Regions from separate parts of the Homo sapiens genome. Here region 1 is linked to region 2. Evidence: fine-mapped expression QTL. Tissue or cell type: CD4 T cells. Region 2 holds a variant in brackets; the other region holds the start of a gene. All regions are shown on one strand. Distances are from middle to middle.

What was found. PIP is the estimated chance that this variant, and not a neighbour inherited with it, causes the effect.
Region 1: UGCG starts here. The variant in region 2 is fine-mapped to the expression of UGCG in CD4 T cells (CEDAR, PIP 0.95).

Annotation. Positions count from the first base shown.
Region 1 is chr9:111,892,246-111,900,411 of GRCh38, reverse strand. UGCG (UDP-glucose ceramide glucosyltransferase) reads right to left here and starts at 3,598. Exons shown (of 9, transcript NM_003358.3): 1 at 3,099-3,598. The coding sequence starts at 3,196. RefSeq lists silencers at 3,154-3,243, 3,354-3,943 and an enhancer at 3,564-4,147.
Region 2 is chr9:111,928,445-111,936,633 of GRCh38, reverse strand. It overlaps UGCG (UDP-glucose ceramide glucosyltransferase), which reads right to left. Exons shown (of 9, transcript NM_003358.3): 6 at 6,956-7,134; 7 at 5,277-5,363; 8 at 4,275-4,464; 9 at 1,265-3,807. The coding sequence ends at 3,637. MIR4668 (microRNA 4668) reads right to left here and starts at 4,534; the gene lies at 4,465-4,534. The variant C/TC (reference allele first, on the strand shown) is at 3,483.

The DNA.
Region 1 (8,166 bases), 36 kb after region 2:
ACACATAAATTATTTCCACACTAGCCTAGCACCTCCAGTCGAAAGATAAAGCCTGATGATAAACATTAGGACCTTATGTACACAGGGAAATAATAATAATATGAGGTGGATGGGATAGGGAAGAGAGCATGAAGCAAGGTTTCTGCTTAGATCACTTCATCACGCAGCAACGTGGCTCCCAAGGGCTAGAAGAGAAACACTACCATCAGGTCTAGGCTTTTATACAATTTCACCTTAGGCCCCAACCTATCAAGCCACACTAGCACTTACCATTAAAAAAAAAAAAAAAAATTAACCCATAAAGGCTATTTAACTTGCCAAGGCTATACTCTTTAGTTATTTTTAGGAAATCTTCAATCTCAACAATAAGACTCTTGAATTTGAAATGTCTCTAATCTGAATGTTACCTTTGACATTGTTGGCAGAAATCCTACAAACATCTGCCATCTAAAATAGGTTAAGAAAGGGCAATAGAAGCTTTGAAACATACCCAAGTATAAAGCAGAATTTAGTTTATAATAAAAATATTTCAAAACAGTGGAATAATCAAATAATCATCTGATAAGTAATTCTGGACAAGTCTCTAAATATTTAGAAGAAACTATAATTAGGGCTCTAGCTCTCATATAACGAAGTAAAATACTGGGTGAATTCAGGGTAATATGTGAAAAAATTAAGAAAAAAATACTAAGAGGAAGCAGAGACTAACATATATAATAATTTGGAGGAATAAGGAAGATATAAAAATTATAACAGAGTTAGAAAATGTAAAAGAAACGGAAAGACCTATCTACCTAAAACACACATGCACACACACTTTTCTCCATGTCAAATATATGTACAAAGTTAAAAGACAAAAAACAGACTGGGGAAAAGAATGCTACATGTGACAGAAAACAACCTTTATATCAGAAAGATGAATTCAGCAACAGATTGCAGCACAGGCAAAGGATTATGAGTATGTAATTTACATCTAAATGTAACTAGCATATAAACATATTTTAAAAGTGCTCAATGTAACTTTAAAGGAATGAAAATAGAAACAGAAAACAGTGAAATGCCTGCTACTTAGTGTTTGTAAGGCAAAATGGGGCCATCATACAATGTTACCAGGACTGTGAATATACATAACATTTCCATGGGGCCAATATGTATCAAAGTTTAAAATGTGCACCACTTCTGGCCCAATAATTCCTCTTTCGGAAATATAAATGAGATCATTTCTCAAAGATGTATGCATATAAATTCATCACAGTGTTCTTTGTAATCTAGATAAATTGGAAACAACCTAAACATCCATCAGTAATAATAAATAAATCTTGGTACCTGGTAAACTAAAATATCATGCATCTATTACAAATGATGTAGAGATCATACAGATATTGACATGCAAAAAACGGTCAAGACATTTTACAGGACAGTTCCATGTGAACAGGGGCCTTGTATGTTTGTTCTTCACTCTTCCAGCAACTAGAACAGTGCCTTGCACAAAACGGCTTTTCAATAAACATTTATTAAACAGATGAACTTTAAAGCAGGTTACAGAACAATAATCATAATATAGTCCTTTTCTCTCTTCCCTCTTCCCCTCCCTCCTTCTCTCTCTCTCACACACACACACAGATTGGAAGGATAGTCACAAAAGGTTAACAAGGTAATGTAGTTTTGGTGTGTGCATATTTTAATTTTCTCCATCTCTCTCTATTGCATAAATTCCTTACACAGTAAGCATTTTTTATTTTTATGACGGTAAAAAGTAACAATTTTTTTAAAGAAAAAGAACTCACATATTTTAAATGAACTCCAGAATGTGCTGTGACTAAGCTCACCAACTCCAAAAACTAAAGTCAACAATATCCAAGTGGCATGTTTTCTTTCACTTTCAAAGAAATATCAGTATAACCTGTACCAGCATCATCTTTCTCAGTACCAGGAAATGCCACACTATACTAATAAAATACAGTGTTTCCAAAAGCAAAGGCACACTTTTTCCGCAGTAAAAAGGAAAAAAAAAAAACCAAAAAACTAAAAGTAACTAATTTCTTAAAGTCTCTTCCACTAACATACACTCTATTCTAGTTCATGGTAACGATTACTATATACAATTGCTCTTTTCTCCCCCCAGACTAAAAATCCAAGTGAATCGATATCAGTAATGTGCTCTATATAATTTTTTCATTTCTTTACAGAGGCAGATTTCACCTTAAACAGTGGATATACCAAACTAGCCACATAACCCATGTCTCTATTCACGCCATCACCCAGTTCTATTTTACTTACACGCTTCGTCACAATCTCATAACCTTATTTAGATTTTATCTGCTCCTTCCTTCTAGAATGTAAGACTCATGAGGACAGGAATTCTGTCCTGCTCACCACCATGTCCCCTGGCCAATAACAGTGAATGGTATCTAGTAGGCCTCAAGAAGTATTTGTTAAACAAAAATGAAAAGATGTGGCCGGCACGGGGAGAGTACAAATCTACATAAAACAATAAAACGAGGAACTGAAAAAAGGAAAGAAAACCACGCTGAGATGTACAAGCTGACAGGACTCAAAGCTATCATGCCAGCTCGGAGGTTTGGTGGACATTTTTCAGGGTGGACAGGTGCTTCACACCTATCTAAGCGCATAGAGCCCTTCCAGGAAGAAGAAAATCCACAGAGAGGTGTCCAGATAGCTGTGAGCAGCTCCCAGAAAAGTGGACACAATCACCACCCTAACAGAAACGTGGCCCAGGTCGGGAGAAAAAAACAATACACCATACATCTCGGCCCAGATGAAAAATTACACGAATCCCCAGCACAATCAAACCAAGCCACCACCTTCAGCCTGACACGTAAGAGCAGTCTCCTTTAGCCTGGCTGGGCAGTCGCCTGCAACCCAGCAAACCCTTCCCACGCCCAACACTTTTCCCTCGCAAAGACCACCGCCACCGCCGGTCCGAGGGGCGAGGGAACGGGGGGAACAGCCTGACGATCAGCTTTCTCCACCCCCGCCCGAGCCCAGTCCCCTTCAAAGCGCAAACGTTTCCCATTCTCGCCTGTCTCCGAGGCCCGGACCCCTGCCCCGAGCCCCTCCTGCGGTCCCTCACTCACGTGTAGATGATAGCCATGAAATGCATCAGCCACAGCACCAAGAAGAGGACGAACCCGAAGACGGCCATTCCCTCCAAGGCCAGGTCCAGCAGCGCCATCCCCCGGCCCGCCGGACCGGCCCGGCCCGCTGCGGCCGCCAACACGGACAACGCTCCCGCAGGAGGAGGACAGGGTGGGCGCCCGGTGCGGGGGCGCGGGAGGCGAGAGGAAGGTGGGGAGAGGAAAGGGCGGAGGGGGGTGGGGACGGAAGGGGCGGGCAGGGCCTGCGCGCCCCCGCCCGCGCGCTCTCGCCTGCGCGCTGTCTTCGGCGCGCTCGCGGGCGGCTGCGGGTGCTGCGGTCTCCCGGCTCTGGTCGGGGCGACCGCGGTCCCGCGCTCCGGTTCGCCTCTCCCGAGCCTCGCGGCCGCCCACCAGACCCTGCGCGCGGGCACCTCCGCCGCCTCTCCGTCTCGCCGCCGGGCTCCCGGCCGAGCAGCTCCACCGCCGCAGCTCCGCGCACTAATCAAAACCGGCGGCTCGCGCCCCACTCCTCGGCGCGTCCCGCCCCCGGAACCGCGGCGCCCGCCTCTCCCAGGGGCGGTGCCCCCATCGGTCCACGCCCACCCTGTCGCCCGCGCGCCCGCTGCGGCGCCGGCGAGAGCGCGCCGGGGAGATCGTGTCCTGCTGCCCGCAGGACGCAGGCCGGGCTTCCTCCGGCTCCTCGCTCCCGCTGCCGCCCACCTAGGCGGAAAGCGCTGCAGCCCTGGGCCGGGCTCCCTCGGTGTCGGTGGCAGCTCGGGACCCTGTGCCTGGCTGGAGGCTGCTCTCTCTCCGTCTGGCCCTGCTGTTCCTGGGTGCCCCAGAAAAAGACACGGGTTCCGGGCAGCTGCCGGAGCTTGTCTAGAAATCCAACTTCCAACGCCGCGTCTGCAGCCTCCCCGCCGGGCACTGCTACTGCTCGGAGCAGCCAGGCCCTCCAGGCCACGTTCCTGGGCGCAAGGGATGCCCATTGCCTTCCCTCTTACTGCTTTTAATGCTGTGGGATCTTGGATCAAAAGGGACCGGAGAGTAAAATAATCTCCATGCGCCTCACAGATCTCTAAGCGCCTTAGCGACCGTGTGTATTATAAAAAGAAATTCTCAAATTCAGAATTAAAGAATCAGTTGATATTGAAATTCCCTAAGACTGCCATCCAATACGGTAGCCGCATGTGGCTAAGTGAGGGTTGGAAAGGCAGCTTGCCACTCTGTGGAGTAAACAGTACACCAGATGTGGAAGACCATCTCGTTAGTAAATTTTATATTGATTGCATGTTGAAAAGGTAATATTTTGGACATACTACATTAAATTAGGTAAATTATTAAGTTAATTTCTCTTTTTAAATACTTTGGCTAGCTACTAGAAAATTTTAATTGTACGTGTGGACAGCACAGCTCTAAAATGGGAAGAAATGTCACTTTGGGTAGTAAGGTAACTAAGTATTTGTCCTAATTTTAAGTCATCCCAAGAAGATGCTAGTACTCAATGTTTGTGTTTCTTCAATCTAGATGAGTTTATACTATTTCTGCATTGTTTTATGTTTATTGTTGCAAGTGATTTCCTTTTAAATAATCCATGACCTCCCTTGAGATATTTCAGAATTGAATTCAATTTTGAAAAGAAGTTGTGGCTGGGCGCGGTGGCTCACACCTGTAGTCCCAGCACTTTGGGAGGCGGAGGCAGGTGGAGCATGAGGTCAGGAGTTCAAGACCGGCCTGGCCTAGATGGTGAAACCCCGTCTCTACTAAAAATACAAAGAATTAGCCGGGCGTGGTGGCAGGCGCCTGTAATCCCAGCTACTCCGGAGGCTGAGGCAGAGAATTGCTTAAACCTGGAGGGGCGGAGGTTGCAGTGAGCCGAGATCGCGCCACTGCACTCCAGCCTGGGCGACAGAGCGAGACTCTGTCTCGAAAAAAAATAGATGAATTTAAAAAAAAGAAAAGAAGTTGTTTATTATTGCTGTTTATGGTAGTTAATAGTCACTGAATGATCTACCTCAATCTGCAATTAAATGACAAACTACAACTAGAAGAGTTAATGTCCGAACCATTCCTCGATTAACATCCTTGGCTCCACTGGTGCAGAATCAGTGGGAAAGAACAATGCTTCAAAATCAAATTCCCACTGTTGAGAGTTACTGGCTGATAAAAATAGCAGGATGGAGGGCCAGGCGCAGTGGCTCATGCCTGTAATCCCAGCAGTTTGGGAGACTCAGGTAGGAGGATTGCTTGAGGCCAGGAGTTTGAGACCAGCCTGGGCAACATGATGAAACCCTGTCTCTACAAAAAAAAAAAAAAAAAAAAATTAGCCAGGCATGGTTATGGCACCTATAGTCCCAGCTACCGGGAAGGCTGAGGTGGTAGGATCACCTGATCCTGGGAAGTGGCGGCTGCAGTGAGCTGTGATCGCGCCACTTAACTCCAGCCTGGGTGACAGTGAGTCCCTGTCTTAAAAAAAAGTGGAATAGAATTCTAACATCGAAATAACGTTCCAAACAAAAATTTACGATTGTAGTTAATTCTAAGGCACACTTCAAAAAAACACTTTAACAAATTTTAATTTCTCTGAAATGGGAATGCATCTCACAGTCAATGCCATCTTAGAGTTAATTGGCGTTTTTTCTTTTTTTTTTTTTTTTTTTTGAGGTGGAGTCTCGCTCTGTCGCCAAGGCTGGAGTGCAGTGGCGTGATCTAGGCTCACAGGAACCTCCGCCTCCTGAGTTCAAGCAATTCTCCTGTCTCACCCTCCCCAGTAGCTGGGACTACATTTGCACACCACCACACCCGGCTAATTTTTGTGTTTTTAGTAGAGACGGGGTTTCACCATATTGTTCAGGCTAGTCTCGAACTCCTGACCTCGTGATCCACCTGCCTCGGCCTCCCAAAGTGCTGGGATTACAGGCGTGAGTCACCGTGCCCAGCCAATGGCTTGTGGTTTTCTTTTACTCAAATATAAAATAATAGTGCATCTTAGTGATATATAAAATAATGCTGCATCTTATCATTAAATGCCCTCTTAGATTTGAGGAACACCAATTGCTTAATTTAAGCATTGTTTTATATTCTGCATTTTTTCAAAAATGTTTTCTGGAACCTTACAACAAAGGATTTTATACAGTATGACCAATAACACAAAAAAAGAGGCCAAAGAAATGTGAAAGTAGATATTCTTAAGAGTTAACAAATTTGCTAAATTGAGTATAATCAGTAGATTAAAGATCAGTTATATTATACTTGACCCTAGTTAAACTATGTTTACCCAAACTTCGTTTTAAAACAGCTTTAGAAAAGGGAAGAGTATGAAGACAGTATAAAGATCTGTGGTTGCCATGGAGCAGAGGAAAGAGGGACAAATAGATGACAGGATTTTTAGGGCTGTGAGTGAAACTATTCTGTATGATCCTATAATAGTGTATACATGTCATATATTTGGCAAACCCCGTAGAAAATACACCACCAAGAGTGAACCCTAATGTAAGCTATGGACTTTAGGTGATAATGGTGTGTTAATGTAGGTCCATCAGTTGTAACGAATATGGTGCTCTGGTGCAAGATGTTAATAGTGGAGGAGGCTGGTGGAGGGAATGGCAGTGGGTATATGGGAACCTTCTGTACTTTCTGCTCAGTTTTGCTGTGAACCTAAAACTACTCTAAAAAGTAAATTCTTAAAAAAAATTAGTGAGTGTTCCACTAAAGGTGTTCTACTTATATATGTATACAAATATGTGTATAACATTGGAAATGCTATAAATGTCTGAATAAGATATACCAGTTTGCGGCTGGGCGCGGTGGCTCAGGCCTGTAATTGCAGCACTGTGGGAGGCCAAGGTGGGAGGATCTCAAGCCAGCCTGGGCAACATGGCGAAACCCTGTTTCTACAAAAAATAGAAAAATTAGCTGGGCGTGGTGGCAGGCAACGTGGTAAAACCCTGTTTCTACAAAAAATACAAAATCTAGCCAGGCATGGTGGTGGGTACCTGTAATTCCAGCTACTTGGGAGGCTGAGGCAGGAGAATCACTTGAACCTGGTAGGCAGAGGTTGCAGTGAGCCAAGATCATGCCACTGCACTCCAGCTTGGGTGCCAGAGCGAGACTCTGACTTAAAAAAAAAAAAATTACCAGTTTGCCATCAGATCCCAGGATTTAGCACCTTGTGGGCACTTAAATATTTGTTGACTGAATGAATAGATAAAATGTTTATTTATCCATTGACAGAAGTCACTGGAAAAATTTCAGTGACTTCTGAAATTTTCTGGAAAAACTTTCTGGAAAAATTTCTCAGCTTTCTCCTTTGTCTGTAAAGATTTTTAAATGGTTTTTCGTTGTGAGAAAAATACACATTAACTTCCATACCTCCTCCTTTATCTTATAAAATTAAGCTAAAGAGTTAGAGTAATTACATATTAGTTCAACTAATCATGTCCTGAAGACCTGCTCCAAAGCCCATACTCTACTTGACAGTCAACAACATAATTTTCGTCTCAATATCACATATTTTCCATCTTTGTCATTGTTATAAATAATTTTTCATGTAAACATTTTAAACATCACAATCCAGTTTTCTATGGTGAGTGTATTATTATTTTTAAAAGATAGGCATACTGTAAATTTTCAGCCCTATAAAAACTTAAAAAATAAGGTGAAAACAAGGTGATCCTCCAGAAATTGAGTAAATTTGAAGTTTCATAAACAAAGAATCAATTGACGTGAAATTTGTGGTGCTAATGCCAAGAAAAAAGTAATTCTTGTCTTTTTTCTAAACATGTTTAGAATTAAGTAGAAAAATACCTTAACTATCAGCTCAGGTGATTAACTTACATTGGTTTGTTATGCATGAAATGGTAACTTTGTAAAAGCCTTCAGATCCTAAGATACTGTGTTACTGTAAATTGCCTTTAAATGATACAAAGATTCCAGGCAAATTATCAGTTCAGGGCCTGATCTTGATAAACCACTGGTATCCTGTGTTTATATATGTGGGTGTGGTCCAGGGGAGTGACTAGAGTTTACTAGAGTTCATGTTCTTCTCAGCTGCTGTGTTCTTCTCAGC
Region 2 (8,189 bases):
GGGGCTACTCCCAGCTCTGCCACCAGCACCATGCCTACCTAACCCTATGATCACAGCTCTCACCGTGGGTGTCTCAGCTTCTTCATTCTAAAATAAGGGTGAGGGATCCTCAAGATCCACCTAGCTATGAAATTCTAAGACATACTCAACTTTGTGTTGATCATTTCTTAAACTGTAGGGTTAGAAGTACACAAATGAGAAGGAATGTTTGTTTACTGGGCCAGATCCCTTTTAGACTGTGTCTTACGGCTCCGATAACAGAATACCATAGACTGGGTGGGTTATAAACAACAAAACTTTCTCAGTTTTGGAGGCTGGAATGTTTAAGATCAAGGCCCTGGCAGATTTAGTGGCTAGTAAAAGCTGACTTTCTGGTTCATAGCTGGTCACCTTTTTGCCGTATCCTCACATGGCGGAAGAGGCAAGAAAGCTCTCTGGGGTTTCCTTTATAAGCATCAATCCCATCCTGACGGCTCTGATCACCTACCAAAGGCCTCACCTTGAAAGACCCTCCTCACATTGGGCATTAGGTTTCAACACAGGAACTACGGAGAGACAAAAATATCAGCTGAGAGCGGATTCTTTCTACCCCGGATTTGTTCTCCAGTTAAGAACATTCTTTTCTCATGGGATGGTGGTAAAACAGGCCTGTAAAGGCTTCCAGCTTGGGAGGGACCTGGCCTTGGAAAGTATGTAAGGTGCATCTCCCATCTGGGTCTCAAGTAATAATGCCACTCCATTCCTTCCTTTGGATTTACATTTTCTAGCCATTAGAGTGGTAAGATCTAAAAGGCTGAGTTCAAGCTGTGAGCCCGGGGGGAGAGGGGCCCAAAGGACCACTGGCTCTTTTCTAAAGGTCATTACGAGCCAGTCATTCTCACAGTAGAATCACGGGTAGAAGAGCTCAGGCCTCACCCAAAATAATTACACCAAAATCTATGTGGGCAGGGCCCAGGGTGTGTGTGTGTGTTGTGTACAGGGCCCAGGGTGTGTGTGTGTGTTGTGTACAGGGCCCAGGGTGTGTGTTGTGTATTTTTTTTTTTTTTTACAAGTTCTCCAGGTGATTTTAACAGGCAACCAATGTAGAAAAGCCATACTTAAGTCACAGGACTGCCTATGTCCTTATTTATTTTACCTATGGCTCAGGTAAAAGGAAGATTTCAAAAGGAATACTTGACAGAACTCTTCTAATAATTCTGATGTGAATGGTGGAACATGCTACTTATAAAAATACAGAAGAACAAAAAATACACTATTGCTAACGTTTTGATTGTATTCAAATTTTTATTTTTTGAACAAAAATTTAAGACAATGATTTTAAATAATAAAACATGGTATATATTCTAGACACTGGTTTTTTTTAAAGATTTATTAAATTTAGACTCCTATAGTTCTGTTGTGATGCTTTCTTCAACATTTATATTATTTCTTACCATTTTATCATCACTCCAAGCTTGCTAAACAAAGAATCTCTCTGTTAAGTGAAGTTTTACATTAAGGAAATACTCCACTAGCACACTGAACAAACCTACAGAACTGTCCTAGTTTATATTTACAAAACACAAGAAGTCTGTCCAGCCATTTTGGTTTTGTTGTTACACTGTCCATACTGAGATCAGCAGAGAGCTAAGTAATACACAAGATTACGCTTCGGCAGTGCAAAGGATGGCATCAACCAAACTTCATTAAACAGACCAACAAGTACAAACATGGTGAGCAAAGTTCAACTCAGGTAATAGTGATTAAAAACAAAACATGTAGTGGGTCACAACCAGACTGGTTTTCACTGTGCAACTTTCCTCAGGGAATAATACCCATTCACAGAAAGAAAGGAATATGCATCCAAGCCTTTGTTCATAAAGAAAATGCCCTTCAAACAAATTCATCATAAGGCTAAAAAAAAAAAAAAAGAAAGAAAAAAGGATGAAGCAGTTTGGCCCAGAGAAAAGCTTAAATATAATGTGTATACATACTTATAGATATGTTGCCATTTAAACCATGGATATAGACATTTGACAATTAAATGAATTGGCTCAGTAAAGTGAAAAAGTGTTTTCTATAAATATGTAGTTATTGCTGATATGCTACACATTATGCTTTGACATGGAGACTGTAGTAACTCAGAATTTAAAGCTGCCATATTGCCAGTGTTAGCCCTGCAGTAGGCATTCCTGTGGACAACATGCCATCCAATCCTGAAGAAAAAGCAAAACACCACTACTTAACAAAGAAAAGGCTTATGCACTGTCCCTTACATTTTTGTTTTTTTTTTTTAAAAAAACAAAACAAAACAGAATCAAGTCCAGTTCACCACAAGTTAAGCACAACCTGGCGAGCAAGTTTAGCGGCATGATGGGGAGAAAACAGTGAGGTACAGCATGCATTTACAACCAGCGCTGATCTAGTCTATTTTGTCATATAAACTTGAATACAAAAATCCAATTTAAATAAGACTAGACTTACTATAATAGTAAACAAACAAAAACAAAAAACAAAAAAAAAAAACACACACAGTAGACTTAGTTTGATACTGATTAATTTTAAGAGTAAACTCATCCTGTCCCCTCTTAATACTCTACTGCAATTTATTGATGGCTAGAATATTTACTGACTTAAAAAAGGTATTAAATACTTGTATCATGAAATTACATTCTTATTAACAATAAGACATACTGTGTAAGAAAATAGCTCATGTGTGAAATGTGTCTGAAATGCATTTTTTCCTTACAACTATCAAAACATCCACTCACACTAAAATGAAACCACTCCCAACCCCCCCTGAAAAAATGTTAAGGGAAGACGGGGTGGGCTGGGGGAGGAGCAAGGAAGGAAAAGATTTAGCTATACTAATTACAGCACAGTGATTAACAATGGTTCAAGACAGAACCAACAAGAGTTGGTCAAAAAGATGCCTTCAATACATGGCTACAATTAAAAACCAAACTCAGCCGCTTTTGGTTCATTGCAGTGAGACCAAAAAAATTATCTCTCACAGATTCATATAAATACTAGACTCCAGCTCTTATATCATTTTTTTTTAAGTTTTTCTGTTTGTTTCTGCAAGGCCTAGCTATCTTATTACAATTTATATTTGCTCTGCAACAACTACAAGAGGTAGGCATAAAGCATGAAAAAGTTTCTCAGTTAGTACCTCGCCATGTGTTGTTCACTGCACAAAACCATTCACTTTGGACATGAATAGTCATTCCTTCTATTATCTTCTAAACTCTAAAGCAAAGCTGCTGCCACCCGTAAATGTTCTAAAAGAGTGTACTCACAAGTAAGAAACTTTCTCTACTGAAGGATACTGTCACAGAGTTTGTTGCAGAGCATCTATATATATATTTATTTATTTATTTTAAAAAAATAAACAACAATGATGAACGAACCCAGGTTCCTAGAACCAATTCTCTTGATTCTCTACTTCCACAAAATAAAGTGTATCATTTGGCCAAGACTACAGATGTGTTTTTTTTTTTTTT[C/TC]ACAGATGCAAGTGCCATGCAAAAATAAATTAAAGAACAGATACCAAAACATACATGTGATAAAACTACAGAAGGTAGATTTTTAAAAGCATTTATATAAACATAATTTATAATACTTCTCTTTTTTCCTTTATATACAGTCACAAAGCTGTAGTTATACATCTAGGATTTCCTCTGCTGTACCCCCACAGCGTAATCTGTAGCGACCAGTTCTCCAGCTTATAGTTGGGTCCCATAATGCAGACAAAAAAATGTATATTGTCATGGATTCGCGGATGAACCAGGCGACTGCATAATCAAGTTTTGAAAAACACAGTGTGCCACCCTAGGAATGGAAAAAAAAATTTTTTAATTTCACTCACTGTCAAACTAAAGACAAGGTTAAAAAATTAAATTCTTGGATTTCACTTTTCTAAGTATACTATGTAAAATCAAGTCTGCTTCCTTATGTAATTTAACTGCCATGTTATACCGTTCAAGAAAATGCTAATTGTTAATGAAGCATTAAAATAACTGCTATCTTAATGTCTTATTAGTTTCAATACTCACTGATTTAATTAACTTCATGTTTTTGGAAACTTAATAAAAGCGATTATATAACCAATAGAAAGTTGCAAATCGACTTAAGTTTTGCATCAACATTCCACTAGAGAAAGTCATGTTCAAACCCGAGACTAACCTACAATGGGAAGCTGAAGAATGGCTCAGATACATTTCCTTCAACTTTTTCTAAATTGAAATAGTTCTAGTTCCACCAAGGGACTGCCAACCTTTTCATGCCTATCCACATACCTGGACACCCCTGAGTTGAATGTAGTCAAATATAAACCATGCCAGGCAATGACACATGAAAAATACCATAATATCCCATCTGAACACATGGTGGGCTGCCCATCCAATAATTAAACTGGCAACAAAGCATTCTGAAATTGGCTCACAAATTATTGTAGCAGGAAGCATGTTAATTCGTAGTTTGGTCCACCTGGAAAAACAAAAAGGATTTTCTTTAAAACAATATCCTGGCTACAAGACAAATCCTTTTTTTTTTCCCTCAAATAATCAATTTTTTTACCCTGTGATAGAAAGACCATTCTCTTTAAACTTTTTTTGTTTTGTTTTTTTTTTTTTACTTGAGACGGGGTTCTGCTCTGTCACCCAGGCTGGAGTGCAGTGGCACTCACTGTAGCTTCAATCTCCCAGGCTCAAGCGATCTTCCCACCTCATCCCACCAAGTAGCTGGGACCACAGGTGTACACGCCACCACACCTGGCTAATTTTTGCATTTTTTGTAGAGACAGGGTTTCACCATTTTGCCCAGGCTGGTCTCAAACTCCTGGGCTCAAGCAGTCCTCTCGCCTTGGCCTCCCAAAGCGCTGGGATTACAGGTGTGAGCCACCACACACAACCTAAAAATTTTTTTTAATGACTCTCTTTTCTATTTTTGTCTAGGATGTCAAAGAAAAATGTCTTTAAATTCATTTGTATGGCCTACGCTCTGATGAATACAGATAATAAAATTTAATCAGCACAGAAAGTTAGAAAATAAAGATCAGCATATTAAAAAATTCAGTCTCAACATTTCTCTAATGAGTGCTTTCAGTGTTATACAGCAAATAAAATACATTTAGACATTAAATTTATCTTAAACACAGACGTTAAACTCTATTTTCTGCAACTAAACAAAAATCTTCAACCTTTAGGTACATTCATTTAACTACATTAAACCTGTAAAAATTACCACCCCCCTCCCCACTTTCCTTTTAACGAAGTATAAAAAGAAAACAGTTGATTTACCTGATCATTCTGGATTGAAACTGAGAAATTGAATATGAGCCAGAGTTTTGCATTGCAACTTGAGTGGACATTGCAAACCTCCAACCTCTGAAAATTAAGATAATTAGAAAATAAGTTATGATGATGAACACATGCAAGCGTAACTGGTTATGCATTCAGTAATCATTATAAAGACCAGGCAACTGCCGGTATTCAGGGTGAGCCCAGCTTTCATGATTAGCACATGACTTAAGGTCTACCATACGTATGGATGTTTTAGCAATTATGCTGGCCCGTGACAGCACCATCTAAGAACTAGAAGAAACTGTACCCACCTTACTTTACAATTTAAGAAACTTAAAATGCAGTCATTTTGAAAAAAAATGGAGAGGGCTCCATATTTAATAGATTAGTCTCTGATGACTACTAACCAAACAACAAGACATGTAAACAGAAAGTGGCATTATGGATCTCATGGGAGACACTAGGAAACCATGAACCACATGAACACAATCATGACAGAATTTGTATTTAAAACACACTTCAGTTTTTAAAAAATTTAAAAGAATTCTCACACAAGGCAGTGATCTCCTTTAAAAACAAGTATTTTAGGCTGGATGCAGTGGCTCATGCCTGTAATCCCAGCACTTTGGGAGGCTGAGGCGGGCGGATCACGAGGTCAGGAGTTCAAGACTAGCCTGGCCAACATGGTGAAACCCCGCCTCTACTAACATACAAAAAAAAGTAGCTGAGTGTGGCGGCGGGTGCCTATAATCCCAGCTACTTGGGAGGCTGAGGCAGGAGAATCGTTTGAACCCAGGAGGCGGAGACTGCAGTGAGCCGAGATTGCGCCACTGCACTCCAGCCTGGATGTCAGGGCGAGACTGTCTCAAAAAAAAAAAAAAAAACCAAAACAAAACAAGTATTTTGTGATAGAGAAATGCTAAGTCAGTCATATGAATCTTTCAGTGGCTTCTTAGCAAAGTATCATATAATTCACTGACAAATTTCAAATTTTGAAATGATAGTCTTTAAATTTTCACCTACTAGTTTATGACTGCACTGATAGTTTTAATTCTTCTAAAACACAGAAATTTGTATCTATATAGTAAAAATTCTAAACACAGAGAAACTTACTTTTAATCGCTTTAAAACACATTAATTTGAAAAATGTAGAGGAATCAGAACATTTACCTTCTTCATTAGTACATATCTACAATTCTATAATTAGAATATGAATTACTCTATAAAATTATTGATCTGCTGGGTGTGGTGGCTCATACCTGTAATCCCAGCACTTTAGGAGGCCGAGGTGGGCAGATCACTTGAGTTCAGGAGTTCAAGACCAGCCTGGCCAACATGAAGAAACCCCATCTCTACTAAAAATACAAAAATTAGTGTGCATGGTGGTACATGCCTGTAGTCCCAGGTGCTCTGGTGGCTGAGGCATGAGAATCACCTGAACCCGGGAGGCAGAGGCTACAGTGAGCCAAGATCGCGCCACTGCACTCCAGCCTAGGTGACAGAGCAAGACTCTGTCTCAAAAACAAACAAAATAATAAAATTATTGACCTATTCTGTACTTACTAGCAAAAAAAATAAAATTAAATTAAAAAGCCCTAATCTATAGGTTGAACAAAAAGAATAAACCAACAGAAGTTAGGTAATAAAAATACTATGGCTTCATTTAGTTGTCTTACCGGTCAGCTATCGCTTTGGCCATAAAGTAATCTTCGGCAATGTACTGAGCAAAAGCTATAAGTCCTCCTGCTTGATCCAACACATCTTTTCTCATTAAACAAGACATTCCTGTCACACATTTGAAACCAGTTACATTGGCAGAGATATAGTATCTTGGATGTGAAGTTCCAAAATATACCTGCCCAAAAAACCACAAACGTGTATGATTAGAATTTCATGTTAAAAGCATGGTGTTCACGAACTGTTTTTCCCAATGGTTTTTTTATAAGTATGATTGAGTGAATATCTTATTATTCTTACGTAGACTACCTGAATAAAAAGTGGTAGACAATATTGCTTTCATAGAGCAAGCACAGTTAGTAAGCTAAAAATGCATCCAAATAAAACTTAATTTAGATACAAAATAAGGTAAAAATATCACTCATTGATATATAAAATATTAACAAATATTCAATGTATCTTGTTTTTAGGGTGTTCATGTAAATATACACACACATCTACTTTACTGGGATCAATATACATATTTGTATGTTACGTATATGTGTGTATATATACATGCATGCATACACACACCACCCATAGGTATATCAACCTTCGGGACAATCCTATTTTTTTGGGGGGTGGGGGGTGGGGAGGGGACACAATCCTATTTCTTAATTCCTTTTCTTGCATCCTTTTGTAGCTAGCTGCTCCCTCTCCCTTAGTCACTAAGATTCTTCCCAATTTCTCCATTTTTTTCAATGTATTTTTCATAACGGGGATACTAAAATTCTCTCATCCGCTACTGCCATTTCTCTGCATATACTCTGAAGTCATAAGATATATACGCTGATAAATCAATGGTAGAAAAGGACTGTTATTACCCTACTTAGTAGACATAAAATCCTATTTATTATTTACACCTCAGATATGTTGCCTTTTCTAATTAGCCTGAAATAAAGAGTAGTCATCTTTCTTAGGAGTTACACACACAGTGCAGAGCAAGAGAATTCTAAGGGGCAATTATGATTATGATTCTTGCTACCTACCCTGAACCCAGACTCCAGTGAAGCCCTAGTGTTTGTGGGACTGAACTGAACCTGACTTCTAAGAACAGAGGCACATATCTTAATTCCTTAGTAGTTATTGAGGTCTTAGGAATGAGATGTTAGTCACTGAGCTGAATGTGCTCTTTACAGTTGAGAATGATTAATTCTAAGTATGGCAGAGTGACTTCCAGAGATTAAACCTACA